2 separate regions of the Homo sapiens genome follow, and region 2 is linked to region 1. A link means that fine-mapping ties the variant in region 1 to the expression of a gene that starts in the linked region. Tissue or cell type: whole blood. Region 1 holds a variant in brackets; the other region holds the start of a gene. All regions are shown on one strand. Distances are from middle to middle.

Region 1 (10,171 bases):
AGGTGGGGGACGCTCCTGGGCCATCTGCCAACTCCAGGGACCCCACCTCCACCCAGGGAGCTCTCCTCCCCCAGCAGGGTCCTTGCTGGGCCTTTCGTAGGGCCTGGGAAGCAAAGGGAGGCTGGCTGCAAGGCTGGGCCTCAGGACTCCTTGCTCTGCAGCTACCTGTCCCACCTGGAGCGCATCACCGAGGAGGGCTACGTCCCCACAGCTCAGGACGTGCTCCGCAGCCGCATGCCCACCACTGGCATCAACGAGTACTGCTTCTCCGTGCAGAAAACCAACCTGCGGTGAGCGCTCCACCTAGGCCCAGCCTAGGGGGCAGGGAAGGCTTCCTGTAGGAAGGGCAAAGGAGCTGGGGCCCTGAGGGATGAGTAGGAGTTTCTTAGGCCCAGCCTTCAAGGAGCTGCCAAGCTAGGGGAAGCAAAGCTCCATGTAGACACCTCCAGGCCCCCAGGTAGTCAGGACTGGGACCTGTAGGAGCCCAGGCTGAGGCATCAGAGATCCAGGAGGGAATATCTTCTTGGAGGAGGGAATATTAATGGGGTTTTGAAAGACGAATAGGAGTTCAGTAGTCCTAACCCTGAAGGGGCTGCTGGGGAGGAGGAAATAGAGACTATACAGTCAGGACCAGGTCTGGGGAGGCCTGGTCTGGGGAGCTCAGAGGTGATCCCTGTAGTCATCAACACTGGGGGATGGACTAGAGTGTGAGGCTGGAAGTCAGGAAACTCAGAAAAAGGAGGAGCCAGGACAGCGGGCGTGGGGATGGAAAGGAAGGGATGGGCAAGAGTTGTTTCTGATGTGGAATGGGCAGGACTGGATGAGTGTGGGAATTAGAACAGGAAGTCAAAAATGACACCTGAGTTTTTTGTCAAGGTGATGGGGGTAGACAGTGGAGCCGGTGGGCTAGAGGATGAAAAGGTGGTGATGGAGTCCTTTGGGACAGGTTGAGTCTGAGGGGCCTAGGGGGACTCCACCTTAGCTGGCAGACAGAGGTGGGAATGGCCAGTGCAGCACCCTAACCCTAACCCTAACCCAGCAGAGCAATGGCCAATGTCAAAGGTCAGGAAAGGAAAGGTCAAGAATACAGTGAGAAGAATGACTCTGGGATTGGCAGTTAGAGGGTCACTGGTGACCTTAGCAAGATCTGTTTCCATGGGCTGATGGCGGGGAGCTGAGCAGGGGTGCAAAGTCATGCCCAGAGACAGCGATTGTGTTTGACCTACCCCTATTTGGCCTTCCTTTCCCTAAATCCCCCAAACCTATTGTTTTGGCCTCTTCAATAGTCCTTACTAGGAAGGTTCATAATTTATCTGTTTTCTGTGGGTCTCCTCTACAAGATGGAGAGCCTCACAAGGTTAGGGGCTGAGTTTGATTCTTCTGCTTCTTTAGTGAATAGCTAAAGGTCAGAGTAGAAGTTGGTAAATGTGGGTGGATGGTTGGAAAGATGGAATGGGGGCAACCCGCTCGGGTCCCCTTCCACGCTGTGGAAGCTTTGTTCTTTCGCTCTTCACAATAAATCTTGCTGCTGCTCACTCTTTGGGTCCACACCACCTTTAAGAGCTGTAACACTTACTGCGAAGGTCTGCGGCTTCATTCTTGAAGTCAGCGAGACCGAGAACCCACGAGAAGGAACCAGCTCTGGGACACAATAGTAGTGTTAGTACCCAAGGATGACTTCTATGGGAGAGATACTTGGTCTGGGAATCTTTAAAAAAAAAAAAAAAGGAAAGATGGAAGGGAATGGATGGGTGGATGAATGGGTGGATGGATAGATGAATAGATGGATGGATAAGTTGAGGGATAGATGAGTGGATGGATGGAGTGGCAGGATGGATGAGTGGATGAATCAATGGATAGATGGATGAGTGGGTGGATGGATGAATGGATGGATAGATGGATGGATTGAAAGAGGGATGAGTGGATGGATGGATGGATGGATGGTTAGATGGGTGGATGGGTGATACATGAATGGATGAGTGGGTGGATGAGTGGATAGATGGATAGATGGGTGGATGAATGGGTGGATGGATGGGTGAATGAGTGGATGGATGAATTAATGGGTAGATGGGTGGAAGGGTGATGGGTGAATGGATGGGTGGGTGGATTGGTGAGTGAAGGATGGATGGATGAGTGGATAGATGGATGGGTGGGTGGGATGGATGAATGGATGGATGAATGGGTGGGTGAATGCATGGATGGATGGGTGGATGAGTGGATGGATGGATGAATGAATGGGTAGATGGGTGGCAGGTGATGGATGAATGAATGAATAAATGGGTGAATGGGTGAGTGAAGGATGGATGGATGAGTGGGTGAATGGATGGATGAATGGATGAGTGGATGGGGGTGTGGGTGGGTGGATGGGTAGATGGGTGGACGAGTGAGTGGATAGATGGGTAGATGGATGTATGAGTAGATGGATAATGGGTGAACAGATGGGTGGATGGATAGATGAGTAGATGAAGCGATGGATGGATGGGTGGATTGAGTAAATGGGTGGACAGGCAGGTGGATGATGGATGGATGAATAGATGGGTAGATGGATAGACGGATAGATGGATGGATGAGTGAATGAATAGATGGATGGGTGGATGGATAGATGGATGGATGGGTGGGATGGATGGATGGATGGATGGATGAATGGGTGGATGGATGGGTGGATGAGTGGATGGATGGATGAATGAATGGGTAGATGGGTGGTGGGTGATGGATGGATGGATGAATGGGTGGATGGATGGGTGGATGAGTGGATGGATGGATGAATGAATGGGTAGATGGGTGGTGGGTGACGGATGAATGGATGAATGGGTGGATGGGTGAGTGGATGAATGGATGAGTGGATGGGTGGGAGGGTGGGTGGATGGGTACATGGGTGGATGAGTGAGTGGATAGATGGGTAGATGGATGGATGGGTAGCTGGGTAATGGGTGGACAGATGGGTGGATGGATGGATGGATGAGTAAATGGAGAGATGGATGGGTGGGTCGGTGGGTGGATTTCGTAAATGGGTGGACAGGTGGATGGATGATGGATGGATGGATAGATGGGTAGATGGATAGATGGATGGATGAGTGAATGGCTGGATGGGTGGATGGATGGGTGGGTGGATGGATGATGGATGGATGGATAGATGGGTAGATGGATAGATGGATGGATGAGTGAATGGCTGGATGGGTGGATGGATGAGTGGGTGGGTGGATGGGTGGATGGATGAGTGAATAAATCGATGAATGGGGTGGGTGGGTGGATAAAAGTTTAGGAGTGAAGGTAGAGGCTGGGAAATCATGGGGAAGTCTGGGCCAAGGAAGTGATTTTTAGGTGTGGCCCAGGAGTGAGACGAATGAATGGAGTGAGGGCTCAGAGGACACTGAGACCCGAGATGAGAGGTGATGCCCACAGTTCCCAACTGGTCAGTTGCTGATCCCACTCCCGTCTCAGTCTCCAGAGCCCCCTCTCGACGGCTGCTTACCCTGTCTGGCTCTGGATGTGGGGTTTGAGGGACTCTGAGGATGCATGGGAGGAGTGGGTCTCAGGGATCAGGAGACACATCCAGCAGCTGCAGCCTAACTGCTTCATCATCAGTCCCGGTTTCCCCTCCTGTGCAATGGGGCAAGTCCCTTCTTGCTTGAGGCCCTGGGCCGGGCCCGTCCAAAGCCTCTGTTCTGGGACTTCCTGAGTAACGGTTGCATCCCCAGGGAAATGACGCACAGATGGTTATCAGCGACCCACATTTCTCAGAAGAGAGAGAACAGGAAGGTGGGGGCAGGGTTCAGGCTTTTGTTACGGTGCGTGGGGCTGAGTCACAGATGGAGGGGAGGACGTGTGCTCTGGGAACAGCCCTCATTCCCATCTGTGTGGCCACTGGACATGCCCATGGCCAGCCAGAGCACAGGAGCCCCATAGCACAGATGGGAAAACTGAGTTTTGGAGATGTTTGGCAATTTCCTCCGCCGGGTCGCCCAGCCAGCACCAGGGCACATCTCAGATCTGTCCAACCTGCTCCCCTCTAATATGGGGGTAGAAAGCAGGCAGCCCAGCACAGTAGAAGCTTGGGAAAGTCCCCGCTCCTCCCTGGATCTCAGGCTTCTCATCTGTAAAATGGGCGTAAGACTCATCCTTGCCTCGCGGGAATGACATGGCAAATCCACGAGAGGCTAGCACCTATTCTTGCTGTCGCTATTATGGATCTTGGCATATCCCAGACGTGATGGGGGTTGGGGGTGTCACGGAGCAGGCTCCTGAGCTCTGAAAGGGGGCACCTCGGTTCCCTGTAGGATCGTGGACGTCGGGGGCCAGAAGTCAGAGCGTAAGAAATGGATCCATTGTTTCGAGAACGTGATCGCCCTCATCTACCTGGCCTCACTGAGTGAATACGACCAGTGCCTGGAGGAGAACAACCAGGAGGTGCGCCACCGCCTCCCTCGCCCTGCCCACTTGTTGGCCCAGGGACCCTCACCTGAGCAGGAAGCTCTGGTGCAGAAAGGGAGGGATCCCTGCTCTTGAACGGGCCTGTGTGTGCCCAGCATGGCTATGAACTTGACCCTTCAGCCTTTTGTGGTCAGATTGCAGCAACCCAAGACACAGACCTACAGCATTTGTTTGGTCAGGACCCCAGACACACACACACACACACACACACACACACACACACACACTACAGTGCACACACGCACATACACAATGCATGCACACAAACACGCACAGACACGTGCATAATACATGCACATACACACGTGCACACACGGGACACATGTACACACGCAGTGCACATGCACAACACATGCACACGAACACACATGCACCACACACATGCACACTTGCATGCACTCACGTGCACAATACACGCATATGTACACATGCGCACACACATGAACACACACATGCACACACACAGTACACACATGCACACGCACACACAGGCACACACACGCACACACAGGCACACAGGCACACACATG[C/A]GTGCACACACACATGCACGCACACGCACAGGCTGGAGTGCAGTGGCGCGATCTCGGCTCACTGGAAACTCCGCCTCCCGGGTTCACACCATTCTCCTGCCTCAGCCTCCGGAGTAGGTGGGATTACAGGCACCCGCCACCACGCTCGGCTAATTTTTTTTTTGTATTCTTAGAAGAGAGGGGGTTTCACCATGTTAGCCAGGATGGTCTCAATCTCCTGACCTCGTGATCCGCCCGCCTCGGCCTCCCAAAGTGCTGGGATTACAGGCGTGAGCCACTGTGCCCAGCCAATAGCCTCTTTTAATAAGTACACCAGTCGTCTAGGATCAGGGCCCACCCTACTCCAGTACGACCTCATCTGGGTTAATTCCTCGTGTGATGGCCCTGTTTCCAAAGAAGGTCACAAACTGAGGTTCTAGGGGGTTAGGTCTTGAACGTATGAATTTTGGGGAAATATGATGTACCCCATAACACAAGGCATTTGAGACCTTATTGTACTTTTTTTTTTGAGATGGAGTCTCGCTTTTGTCGCCCAGGTTAGAGTGCAGTGGCGCGATCTCAGCTCACTGCAACCTCCGCCTCCCGGGTTCAAGCGATTTTCCTGCCTCAGCCTCCCGAGTAGCTGGGTTTACAGGCACCTGCCATCATGCCCGGCTAATTTTTTGTATTTTTAGTAGAAACGGGGTTTCACCATGTTAGCCAGGCTGGTCTCCAACTCCTGGCCTCAGGTGATCTGCCCGCCTTGGCCTCCCAAAGTGCTAGGATTACAGCCGTGAGCTGCCGCGCCCGGCCAGGTCTCCCTCTTCTTATGAGGACAGCAGTCACGGACTTGAGGGCCACCGTATTCTAGTATTGCCTCACCTTAACGACCTCTTCAAAGACCCTATCTCCAGGCCAGGTGCAGTGGTTCATGCCTATAACCCCAGCACGCTGGGAGGCCAGGAGTTCAAGAATCTCTCTCCAGATAAGGTCACACTCTGAAGCTCTGGGGGGACATGAATTTCGGGAGGACACACTTCCAACCAGCACAGGCACAAAACCATGTCAGGCACACCCAGGCAGCTGTCCATATGGAAACACGGGCACACCCGCCTCAGCCCCAGCCAGGCAGATAGGGGTGAGCCCATGCCCCTGGAGCCAACAGCCCCGTCTCCGCGATGGGAGGGTTTCCTGTCCCACCTGGCTGGTTGAAGCACTAACCTGCTTCTGCCCCCAACACAGAACCGCATGAAGGAGAGCCTCGCATTGTTTGGGACTATCCTGGAACTACCCTGGTTCAAAAGCACATCCGTCATCCTCTTTCTCAACAAAACCGACATCCTGGAGGAGAAAATCCCCACCTCCCACCTGGCTACCTATTTCCCCAGTTTCCAGGGTAAGTAATTCTAGAACTTTCTATACCCTTCAACTCCCAAAAGCAGCTCCGAAGAGAGATGCTAATCCAGACTCTACTTCAGCCTGGAGTCACCGGAACTTTCACATAGGATCAGACCCGCGTTCTAGACTCAGCTCCATCCACTGCCCGACCTCATTGAATCTGTTTTCCCTTCTGTGGAATGGAATAAAATAGCAGAGGCCCTTGGAACTGAGTAAAGTGAGGAATTCTAAAAACACGTAGCATATCACGTACACCTTAAACATTTTATTTATTTATTTATTTTTGAGACAGAGTCTTGCTCTGTCACCAGGCTGGAGTGCAGTGGCGTGATCTCGGCTCACTGCAACCTTTCCCTCCAGAGTTCAAGCGATTCTCCTACCTCAGCCTCCCTAGTAGCTGGAACTACAGGTGCGCGCCACCACGCCCAGCTAATTTTTGTGTTTTTAGTACGAAAAGACGGGATTTCACCATGTTGACCAGGATAGTCTCGATCACTTGACCTCCTGATCCACCCGCCTCAGCCTCCCAAAGTGCTAGGATTATAGACAGGAGCCACCATGCCCGGCCAAACATTTTATTTTATGCTTGTTGGCCAACATTTGGGGTTTGAGCCAAGATCCTTCAAGCATGGGTTTGCTATGTAGAGGTCACTGTTGTAAAGCACTTCTGGAAAGATTGTCTACTATTTCCAGAATCTGCCTAGGTTTTAAGAATGATTCTTTTTCTTTTCTTTCTTTCTTCTATTTTTTCTTTTTGAGACAGAGTCTCACTCTGTCACCCAGGCTGGAGTACAGTGGTGCGATCTTGGCTCATGGCAACCTCCAACTCCCCGGTTCAAGTGATTCTCCTGCCTTAGCCTCCCAAGTAGCTGTGATTACAGGCACGTGCCACCAAGCCTGGCTAATTTTTAGTAGTTTCCTGTCCTATTTTTAGTAGAGATGGGGTTTCACCATGTTGGTCAGGCTGGTCTCGAACTGACCTCAAGTGATCCACCTACCTCAGCCTCCCAAAGTGCTGGGATTACGGGCGTGAGCCACCGCATCTGGCCATAACGTTTCTTTTTCTAATCTTTCATAGTGATCTCATCTATCCCTAATTGGATAGCAATTTCTTTTTCTTTAATCCATTTTTTCTTTAATTTTTTTTTGTTTGTTTTTTGAGACGGAGTCTCGCTCTGCTGCCCAGGCTGGAGTGCAGTGGCGCAATCTCAGCTCACTGCAAGCTCTGCCTCCTGGGTTCACACCATTCTGCTGCCTCAGCCTCCCGAGTAGCTGGGATTACAGGTGCCCGCCAGAACGTCTGGCTAGTTTTTTGTATTTTTGGTCGAGATGGGGTTTCATCATGTTACCCAGGTTGGTCTCAATCTCCTGACCTCATGATCCACCTGTCTCGGCCTCCCAAAGTGCTGGGATTACAGGCGTGAGCCATCGTGCCCAGTCTATTTTTTCTTTAATTTCTTTTCTTTTTTTTTTTTTTTTTGAGATGGAGTTTTGCTCTTTTTGCCCAGGCTGGAGTGCAATGGCACAATCTCGGCTCACCGCAACCTCCGCCTCCCGGGTTCAAGGGATTCTCCTGCCTCAGCCTCCCGAGTAGCTGGGATTGCAGGCATGAGCCACCACCCCGGCTAATTTTGTGTTTTTAGTAGAGACGGGGTTTCTCCATGTTGGTCAGGCTGGACTTGAACTCCCGACCTCAGGTGATCCACCCGCCTCGGCCTCAAAGTGCTGGGATTACAGGCGTGAGCCACCACACCTGGCCTTTCTCTTTAATTTTTAAAGCAGAGCTTTGAACAATGTTTCCAAAGCACACAGCTTAGTTTTGTAATACAATGACCTTCTTTCATGCGGCACTTGTAGCTACAGATTTGCATAACGTTTCTTTTAATTACATATGAATCAAGACACGTACAATGGGCAAAAACAGGTTTGGGAACAAACTCTCAGTCCATCCAGAGGGTGAAAGGGCCACAGGGCAACTACAGAGAAACACCATCTAGTGTTGGGCACCACTTAGTATATTTTACAAAGGGGAGGCAGAGTTGTGGTTAATCCAGGGACCAACGTGGGGAAGGTACATATTCACTAGCACTTTCCCCAGAACACCACTGTGAGGATAAAGTGTGGTGGCGGGTGTCCTGCTTAGCTACTGCCGAGTAACAAACCATCCCCAAACTTAGTGACTTAAACTGGTCATTTTCCTTTGCTTATGATTTTGTGGGTCAGGAATTTGGGAAAGGTTGAGCTGGGTAAGTTCATCTCTGATCCATGTGACATCAGCTGGGCTCTATGGGATTGGAGATAAACTTCCAAGATGGCTTCTTCCCCCATATGTCTGGTGCCTTGGTGCTCTTGGCACTCTTGGCCTCTCTCTCTGTGTCTCTCCCTGCCTCCCTCTCCCATCTCATCTCTCTCTCCTCCCCTTTCTCCTAGTCTGTCTCTCCTTTTCCACCTCCCCTGTTCTCTCTGTCTCCATCTGGGGCCTCATGATCCACAGCCTCTTCACATGGTTTGAGCTTACTCACAATATGGCTGCCTCAGGGTAGACAGACTTCAGCCCAGGTGGAAGCTGCTTCTCATGATAGCCTCAGAAATGTCAGACGTTACTCTGCCACATTCTATTTGTCAAGCACATCACTCATATCAGCCCGGATTCAAAAGAAAGAGACTCCATCTCTTGAAGGCAGCATGACACATGCATACAGGGAGGGAAGGAAGTGACGGCAGCCATCTTGGAGATAACTTGCCTTCATGTCCTGGGGATGCCGTAACAAAGTACCACAAACTGGGTGGCTTAAAACAACAGGAAACAACAGAAGTCCAAAGTTAAGGTATTGGCAAGGTTGGTTCCTTTTGGAGGCTCTAAGGGAAAATCCATTCCATGCTTCTCTCTCAGCTTCTGGTGGTGGCCTACAATCCTTAGCTTGTAGACATATCACTGCAATCTCTGCCTCCATGTTCACATGGCTGTCTTCTCACCATGCCTTTATGTGTCCTCTCCTGTTGTTATAAGGCCACCAGTCATTGGATTTAGGGCCCATACTTTGGTATGACCACTTTTTTTTTTTTTTTTTTTTTTTGAGACAAGGTCTTGCTCTGTTGCCCAGGCTAGAGTCCAGTGGTGTGATCACAGTTCACTGCAGCCTCAACCTCCTGGGCACAGGTGATCCTCCCACCTCAGCCTCTTGAGTTGCTGGGACTACAGGCGCACACCACCACACCTGGGTAATTTTTGTATATTTCTGTAGAGACAGGGTTTCGCCATGTTGCCCAGGCTGATCTGGAACTCCTGGGCCCAACCACACATCTGTCATCCACCTGCCTTGGCCTTCCAAAGTGCTAGGATTACAGGCGTGAGCCCTCATGCCTGGCCATGACCTAATTTAACTTAACTAATTACATCTGCAAATATCCGATTTCTAAAAGTCATATTCTGAAGTTCCAGGTGGACATGAATTTTGGGGGACACTGTTCACCTCAATATACAAGCAACCATAGTAGATGAGTCCTTAGTACATGCTTGACACCAGGTCCACAATCAGTAAACATAAACTTTGGTGAAGTCACCAGGTTTTGATCCCTGGTCTTGTCATGTCTCAGAGCCCATGAGGCCAATTTTAGCCAATTATACCCACAAGATTCAGGGTCTGGGAGATAGACGTCAAGTTGTTCCAGGATGGTGGCCTGGATAGCCCCTCTTCCTTGCCAAGCAGCCCTGGGAATCAGCTCATAGTTTAGAGAATTTGGGAACAGGATAAGGTAGATATTTTTTTCATTCAGGTCAAAGGGAACCACCCATGACTCATCCTTGTCTCCCAGCACAAGTGACTGGTGCA
Region 2 (9,085 bases), 21 kb before region 1:
AGACTCTGTCTCAAAAAAAAAAAAAAAAAAAAAAAAAAAAAAAGATCCGAGTCGTCCGCAAATCCATTGCCCGTGTTCTCACGGTTATTAACCAGACTCAGAAAGAAAACCTCGGGAAATTCTACAAGGGCAAGAAGTACAAGCACCTGCACCTGCGGCCTAAGAAGACACGCGCCGTGCGCCGCCCGCTCAGCAAGCACGAGGAGAACCTGACGATCAAGAAGCAGCAGCAGAGCGAGCAGCTGTCCCCAGTGCGGAAGTGCGCGGTCAAGGCCCGAGTGGCGCGTTGTCAATAAAGCACAGCTGGCTGAGAAAAAAAAAAACAAAAAAAAAAACACCAAAACAAACAAACAAACAAAAAACACAGCCACAAAGAGCCAATCCACGGTCAGGAGGGAGTTGTTCCGGTGATGGAACTACATTCTGTATCCTGTTTATAGCAGTAATTTACACGAATCTCTACAGCTGTTAAAACTCATAGAAACCAGGCCGGGCGCGGTGGCTCACGCCTGTAATCCCAGCACTTTGGGAGGCCGAGGCGGGCGGATCACGACGTCAGGAGATCGAGACCAGTCTGGACAACATGGTGAAACCCCGTCTCTACTAAAATACAAAAAAAATTAGCCCGGCGTGGTGGTGGGCACCTGTAGTCCCAGCTATTCGGGAGGCTGAGGCAGCAGAATGGCGTGAACCCGGGAGGCTCAGCTTGCAGTGAGCCGAGATCGTGCCACTGCACTCCAGCCTGGGTGACAGAGACAGACTCCGTCTCAATAAATAAATAAATAAATAAATAAATAAATAAACTCATAGAACCATACACCAAAGAAAGTAAATACAATGCTACATAAATTTAGACAATTAAAAACAAGATCTTTTTTTGGGGGGGACAGACCCTTGCTCTGTCAACCCAGGCTGGAGTGCAGTGGGTCAATCATAGCTCACTGCAGCCTCAACCTCTCTGGCCTAAGCAATCCTCCCACCTTAGCCTCTGGAGTACCTGGGACCACAGGCATGAGCCACCACCCCCGGCTAATTTATTTTATTTTATTTTTTAGAAATGGGGTCTCACTGGGAAGGTGGAGGTTGCAGTGAGCTGAGACCGAGCCATTGCACTCCAGCCTGGGCAACAATAACAAAACACCGTCTCAAAAAAAAAAAAAAAAAAAAAAAAGAAAGAAAGAAAGAAAAAAGAAAAAAAGAGATAGAGTCTCACTATGTTGCCCAGGCTGGTCTTGAACTCCTGGGGTCAAGCAATCCTCCCACTTCAGCCTCCCAAAGTGCTGAGATTATAGGCATGAGCCAACATGCCCAGCTGAAATAGATCTTATTAGCAAAAAATACCCCCCAAACCCGGAAATAAATATTAATACCACAGAAGTCAGAATGATAGTTACTGCTGGGAAGGTAGAGATTACTATGAGGAAAACACTAGGGGTCTTTGTGGGGCTAAGGTCTTTTTTTTTTTTTTTTTGAGACAGAGTCTTGCTTGTCACCCAGGCTGGAGTGCAGTGGCACGATCTCAGCTCACTGCAACCTCCACCTCCCAGGCTCAAGCAATACTCCTCCCCCGGCCTCCCGAGTAGCTGGGATTACAGGTGTGCACCATCACACCTGGCTAACTTTTCTATTTTTAGTAGAGACGGGGTTTCACCATGTTGTCCAGGCTGGTCTTGAACTCCTGACCTCAGGTGATCTGCCCACCTTGGCCTCCCAAAGTGCTGGGATGACAGGCGTGAGACACCGCGCCCGGCCTGAAAATGTCCTTAGTCTTGGCCTCAGTGGATTCTGTGGATACCGGCTTCACAACAATTTATTAGGTAATACATTCAGGTTTTATGTGTTTTCTGAAAGAAATATTTTCTACACACACAAGCTCACCCTGGTGTTCCCAGCTGAGCTAATAATACACGACAAATGCTCAGCATGTGGCAAGGAAGTAGCTCAGCCCGTTTAGGGAACCGCAAGGGAGGTTTGTTCAGCAGCTGGAGAAGTGGGCAGAGCCTGGGCCCTGGATCCAGGGAGCCGGCTCATTAATTCTGAAGCCAGCGGGAGCCACAGAGGGTCTGCCACCCTGGTCCAGGCTGTGAAGATGGCGGGTGCTGGTATCCTGTCCAAAAATGCCGCAGGGAGATGCTAGGAGAGTGGCCCCCTGGGCTCACCCTGTGGGGCCTGTGGCTCAGCCTCGTCTCCCAGTTTTGCTGGTCATTTCTGTTTCAACCATCCTGGAAGATCTGCACGGCCATGACCTATTTCTGCGTTTCTTTGCCTGTCCTGGGTGGGACTGCCCCTCGTTGCTGCTATCCGGTTGGGGGCGGGAAGGTGGGTGGCTGGGTGGGCAGATGGCACCTGCCAGCCCCAGTGACCAGATGGGGGCCCCTATCGTACTTCCCATCTGTCATTCGTTATGAATCAACAGTGGAGAAAACCACACGTTTGTGCTGAGCTGGTGAAGCTGCGTCAACGGCTGTCACCGAGCCCTGGTGTCTGGGAGGAGGTGGGGACGGTGGCTGCCAATGGCTGTGTGGCCCTGGGCACGTAATTCGCCCTCTCTGTGCCTTGCCCTATCTGTAAAGGGACCAGAGGCCCCCGAAGTACAAGAATTACGTGTATCTCTTGGGGAGGAGAGTTTTGATCCAGAACTTTCTAGAATTTTCTACAGCCTGTCAATGGGGGTGGGGAATCTTCACCCAAACACTCTGGCTCTGAGTACCTAGGAAGCAGCAACGTTTCTACCAAGCTGCCAGCCACCAGCCCACCCCTAGGGCCCTGAAGTCCCAGAGGGATCAGGTCAGGGCGGCCTCATGGCACTCATTGGGAAGATCTCCTTGACCAGTGAGGTCCACTCCCAAAGTCCCTCTTACACCCGATCTGCCTGTCTGACTTCTGATCCTGAATATCACTTGTCTGTGCGACCTTTGTTGATCCATTTAGAGCAATGACCTTGAACCTTCCCCAACAACATCTCTGCTTAATTTTTCTGGCAGAATTTTTCACCATCCAACGGGCTCAGGTGTATTAAAAAATATATATATTTTACACGTGTGTGTATATATATACACACATATATATTTTTATGTATAATATACATATATGTATATTAAAATGTATACTTTTATGTGTGTATATATGTATGTGTATATATGTATGTGTGTCTATATATTGTGTATATATATGTATGTGTATATATGTATGTGTATATACATATATGTATGTGTGTCTATATATTGTGTATATATATGTATGTGTATATATATGTATGTGTGTGTGTGTATATATATACATAGAGAGAGAGGGAGAGTTTTGTTTTGTTTGTTTCTGGAGACAGGGTTTCACTATGTTGCCCAGGCTGGAGAGCAGTGTTATGATCTCGGCTCACTGCAGCCTCCATCTTCGGGGTTCAAGTGATTCCCTTGCCTCAGCCTCCCAAGTAGCTGGGACTACTGGTGCGTGCCAACATGCCCAACTAATTTTTGTATTAGTAGAGATGGAGTTTCTCCATGTTGGCCAGGCTGGTCTCAAACTCCTGACTTCAAGTGATCCTCCTGCCTCGGCCTCCCAAAGTACTTTGATTACAGATGTGAGCTCCCGCACTCACCTGGCCAAATTTTTTATTCTTTTATTTTTTATTTTTTTTGAGATGGAGTCTCACTTCGTCGCCAGGCTGGAGTGCAGTGGCACGATCTCAGCTCACTGCCACCTCTGCCTCCCGGGTTCAAGCGATTCTCTTGCCTCAGCCTCCCAAGTAGGTGGGACTACAGGCGTGCACCACCACGCCCGGCTAATTTTTGTATTTTTAGTAGAGACGGGGTTTCGCCGTGTTGGCCAGGCTGGTCTCGATTTCTTGACTTTGTGATCTGCCCGCCTTGGCCTCCCAAAGTATAGGGATTACATGCGTGAGCCACCAGGCCCAGCCTAAAATTTATTTTATTATCTGTTCTTTAACTAGAACCTTAGGTAAGGAGGTCTGGGATCTGTGTCTCTTGGCTACCGTGCCTGGCACACAGTTGGCGCTCCATGAATGCACGCACAATGAAGGGATGGCCCTGCCTGGAATCTGCCTGGTAGGCGTCTAGACTCTGGGGCCCCGCAGGTGAGGGATAGGCTCCCGGCTCTGCCTTGTGCCAGCCCCACCGGTCACTCCCCTGCTCTATGCCTCAACCTCCTCATCAGTCAAACAGGGATGACAGTAGTAACTATACAGGGTGATGTGAGTGTAAAACCAGCTAATGTGAGCCAAAACCCGGCTAATTTTTGTATCTTTAGTAGAGACAGGGTTTCGCCATGTTGGCCAGGCTGGTTTCGAACTCCTGACCTCAGGCAAGCTGCCCACCTCTGCAGGGTGGATCACCTGAGGTCAGGGCAGAGTCGCTGGAAACAGTCCATGACACCTGGCCTGAGCTGTTTCTTAAAAATATATCAGAAGGGCCGAGCGTGGTGGTTTATGCCTGCAATCCCAGCACTTTGGGAGGCCGAGGCGGGTGGATCACCTGAGGTCAGGAGTTTGAGACCAGCCTGGCCAACGTGGTGGAACCCTTTCTCTACTAAAAATCCAAAGTTAGCCCGGCGTGGTGGTGGATGCCTGTAATCCCAGCTACTCGAGAGGCTGAGGCAGGAGAATTGCTTGAACCTGGGAGGCAGATGTTGCAGAGTCAAGATCCTGCCACTGCACTCCAGCCTGGGCAATAAGAGTGAAACTCTGTCTCAAAAAAAAAAAAAAAAATATATATATATATATATATATATATATATATATATATATATATATATACACATATATATATATACACACACATATATATATGATATATATATAATGTATCAGCAGTAGCACGGGTCTGACGGTTCCTGATTGGCTCCGAGGAGGGGGACAGCTCCGGGTGAAGCCTGAGGAGAATCCGCCCCTTCTCCAGAAGGAGGAAGAAGGGCCCTGCTGGTCACACAGGACCCAGTCTGCGGTGGGGGTTTTCCCGCCACCGCCCCGCCCTCCCTGGGGCCCCCACCTCACCCTCTCCTGGCACCCTTCACCGTCAACCTGTCGGGCCGGGTCTGAGCAGGTCTGGAGGTGGGCGGGGAGCCCTGGCCTCCCCACCTCCTCCCGTCCCCACCCTGTTCCCAGCACTCAAGCCTTGCCACCGCCGAGCCGGGCTTCCTGGGTGTTTCAGGCAAGGAAGTCTAGGTCCCTGGGGGGTGACCCCCAAGGAAAAGGCAGCCTCCCTGCGCACCCGGTTGCCCGGAGCCCTCTCCAGGGCCGGCTGGGCTGGGGGTTGCCCTGGCCAGCAGGGGCCCGGGGGCGATGCCACCCGGTGCCGACTGAGGCCACCGCACCATGGCCCGCTCGCTGACCTGGCGCTGCTGCCCCTGGTGCCTGACGGAGGATGAGAAGGCCGCCGCCCGGGTGGACCAGGAGATCAACAGGATCCTCTTGGAGCAGAAGAAGCAGGACCGCGGGGAGCTGAAGCTGCTGCTTTTGGGTGAGTCCAGGGTCGGTGGGCGGTGGGTGGTGGGCAGTGGGCGGTGGCCAGCCGGCAGGGGTGTCGGGGCAAGGAGGCGGATCAGGCTAGGTCAGACATTGGCATCGTGGAGCCGTCGCCTCCTCCCAGGGAATGGGGAGCCTGGAACCCATTTTCCAGATGAGAAAGACTGAGGTTCAGAGAAGCCAAGTTCCTTGTCCAACGTGCGACCAGCGGCCAGGTGCCCAGGCCTGTCCACTGTGTGGGGCATATACAATAGCAGACGTGGCTCTACCGGGCCCCTGCCGGGCAGGCCCAGCACGCCCTACCTGTCTGTGTCATGGCGAGGGAATGATGAGCTCAGGTGTGCAACCCGTTCTGGCCAGCCCACCCGTAAGGGAGGGGCCGGCTCCAGCCTCTCCTTCACCAGGACGCTCCCTCTCGCCTTTACCTCCCTGCCATGGCTGGAGAGGGCTTGTCTAGGGCTCCTTTGGGGGCTAGAAAGGATGGATTGATTGGTTCATTGGTTCATTCATTCATTATTCATTCATTTAAGATTTATTGGGTAGCTCCCAGGAACGAGGCAGCCAAACAGGGGAAGATATTTCTGTCTTCCTGGATCTCATTTCCTGTGAAGGAGCCAAGACATTTAGTCTGTAAACTCATAAGCAGATAAAATAATTCTGGCAACAAGAATTATCTAGGAGAAAACAAAACAGGGTGATGGCTTCCATGCGGAGGCTTCAGATGGGGGAGTCGACGTCAGTAACGGTTCAAGATTCTGAACTCTGGCTGGGTGCAGTGGCTCAAGCCTGTGATTTCAGCACTTTGGGAGGCCCAGGCGGGTGGGATCACTTGAGGTCAGGAGTTCAAGACACAGCCAGGCCAACATGGTGAAGCCCCGTCTCTACTAAAATACCAAAAATTTGCCAGGCATGGTGGCTCATGCCTGTAATCCCAGCACTTTGGGAGGCCGAGGTGGGTGGATCACAAGGTCGGGAGATCGAGACCAGCCTGACCAACACGGTGAAACCCCATCTCTACCAAAATACCAAAAATTAGCCAGATGTGGTGGTGCGTGCCTGTAGTCCCTGCTACTCGGGAGGCTGAGGCAGGGGAATTGCATGAAACCAGGAGGTGGAGACTGCAGTGAGCTGAGATCATGCCACTGCACTCCAGACTGGCGACAGAGTGAGACGCCATCTCAAACAAATAAACAAACAAACAAAACCAAAAATTAGCTGGGCATGGTGGCACACAGCTATAATCCCAGCTACTCGGGAGGCTGAGGCATGAGAATCGCTTGAACCCAGGAGGCAGAGGTTGCAGTGAGCTGAGATCGGGCCACTGCACTCCAGCCTGGATGACAGAGCAAGACTCATTGTCAATAAATAAATAAATATAAATAAAATAAATAAATAAATCATGCCTGTAATCCCAGCACTTTGGGACGCCAAGGCGGGCAGATCACTTGAGGCCAGGAGTTCGAAATCAGCCTGGTCAACGTGGCGAAACCCCGTCTCTACTCAAAATACAAAAAAATTAGCCGGGTGTGGTGGCATGTGCCTGTAATCCCAGCTACTGGGGAGGCTGAGGCAGGAGAATCGCTTGAAACCAGGAGGTGGAGGCTGCAGTGAGCCAGGATTGCACTATTGCACCCCAGCCTGGGCAACAAGAACAAAACTCCGTCTCAAAAAAAAAAAAATTCTGATCTCTGAAACCTCGGGGTCTTCTCATTCCCGTAGCTTGTTTCCCCAATTACCTTTCCCTGATTATGGCCCCGTTGGCCTAAGCCCGGGATGCTAGCCTGGGAGGGTCTTCTGGGATCCCCGAGCTCTGGGTTGGGGGCTGGAGAAGGTCTCAAGTCTTCTGGACTCGCGTTTGTCTGCCCCGGGCAAAGAGCTTGATCATCCCGTGATGGTTGCTATCGTCCTTTCCTCGTTCAGTGGGAAGAGGCCGCCCGAGAGGAAAGAGAGAGAACATCGAGTGGGATGGTGGGGACCCCCAGGAACTGCACCTTCACTGGGGGCCCTTTCTTTCTTTTTTCTTTTCTTATTTTTATTTTTATTTTTTTGAGACGGAGTCTTGCTCTGTCACCCAGGCTGGGGTGCAGTGGTGCGATCTCAACTCACTGCAACCTCCGCCTCCCGGGTTCAAGCAATTCTCCTGTCTCAGCCTCTTGAGTAGCTGGGATTATAGGCACGCGCCACCACGCCCAGTTAATTTTTTTTTTTTTTGTATTTTTAGTAGAGATGGGGTTCCACCATGTTGGCCAGGCTGGTCTCGAACTCCTGACCTGGTGATCAACCCGCCTTGGCCTCCCGAAGTGTTGGGATTACAGGCGTGAGCCACCGCGCCCAGCCTCTTTTTTTTTTTTTTTCTTTTTTTTTAGATTGAGTCTTGCTCTGTCCCCCAGGTTGGAGTGCAGTGGTGAGATCTCAGCTCACTGCAACCTCCGCCTCCTGGGTTCAAGTGATTCTCCTGCCTCAGTCTCCTGAGCAGCTGGGACTACTGGTGCGCACTACCACACCTGGCTAATTTTTGTATTTTTAGTAGAGATGGGGTTTCACCATGTTGGCCAGGCTGGTCTCGAACCCCTGACCTCAGGTGATCCTACCACCTTGGCCTCCCAAAGTGTGGGGATTACAGGCGTGAGCCACTGCACCCAGTCAAGGGCCCTTTCAACTCTAGCCTTGATCCCTCTTACTGAACGAGATAAAAGAATATCTCAGCAGGGCATAGTGGTTCATTCCTGTAATCTTAGCACTTTGGGAGGCCTAGGTGGGAGGATTGCTTGAGCTTAGGAGTTTCAGACCAGCCTGGGCAACTTAGCAAGACCCAGTCTCTAAAAAAAATAAATAAATAAAATAATTAGCCAGGCATGGTGGTGCGCAACTGTAGTTCCAACTACTTGGGAGGCTGAGGTGAGAGGATCACTTGAGCCTGGGAGGTTGAGGCTGCAGTGAGCTATGATCATGCCACTGCACTCCAGCCTGGGTGACAGAGCAAAGCTGACTCTGTCTCAAAAAAAAAAAAAAAAAAATGCCGGGTGCAGTGGCTCATGCCTGTAATCCCAGCACTTTGGGAGGCCGAGGTGGGCAGATCATGAGGTCAGGAGGTTGAGAACATCCTGGCTAACACGATGAAACCCCGTCTCTACTAAAAATATAAAAAATCAGGGCTGGGTGCGGTGGCTCACGCCTGCAATCACAGCACTTTGGGGGGCCGAGGAGGGTGGATCACGAGGTCAGGAGATGGAGACCATCCTGGCTAATGTGGTGAAACCCCATCTCTACTAAAAATACAAAAATTAGCCAGGCGTGGTGGTGCGCACCTGTAGTCCCAGCTACTTGGGAGGGTGAGGCAGGAGAATTGCTCTAACTTGGAGGCAGAGGTTGCAGTGAGCCAAGATCACACCACTGAACTCCAGCCTAGGCAATAAGAGTGAAACTCCATCTCAAAAAAAAAAAATCTATCTATCTATCTATCTATCTATCTATCTATCTATCTATATTTGACATATTAATGTGTCATATTATGTCACATTATGACGTATCATATCGATATGTCTTATTATTTTAAATAAATAGGGCTACTTAGGCTATCTACTTCTTCTTGTGTGGGTTTTGATCATT

Evidence for each region. PIP is the estimated chance that this variant, and not a neighbour inherited with it, causes the effect.
Region 2: GNA15 starts here. The variant in region 1 is fine-mapped to the expression of GNA15 in whole blood (INTERVAL, PIP above 0.99).

The regions. Positions count from the first base shown.
Region 1 is chr19:3,151,546-3,161,716 of GRCh38, forward strand. GNA15 (G protein subunit alpha 15) reads left to right here. Exons shown (of 7, transcript NM_002068.4): 4 at 162-290; 5 at 4,278-4,407; 6 at 6,183-6,336. It overlaps GNA15-DT (GNA15 divergent transcript), which reads right to left and starts at 3,630. Exons shown (of 4, transcript NR_110670.1): 1 at 3,473-3,630. RefSeq lists enhancers at 3,246-4,203, 3,491-3,820, 3,861-3,950. The variant C/A (reference allele first, on the strand shown) is at 4,962.
Region 2 is chr19:3,131,125-3,140,209 of GRCh38, forward strand. GNA15 (G protein subunit alpha 15) reads left to right here and starts at 4,909. Exons shown (of 7, transcript NM_002068.4): 1 at 4,909-5,471. The coding sequence starts at 5,327. It also overlaps the pseudogene RPL35P10.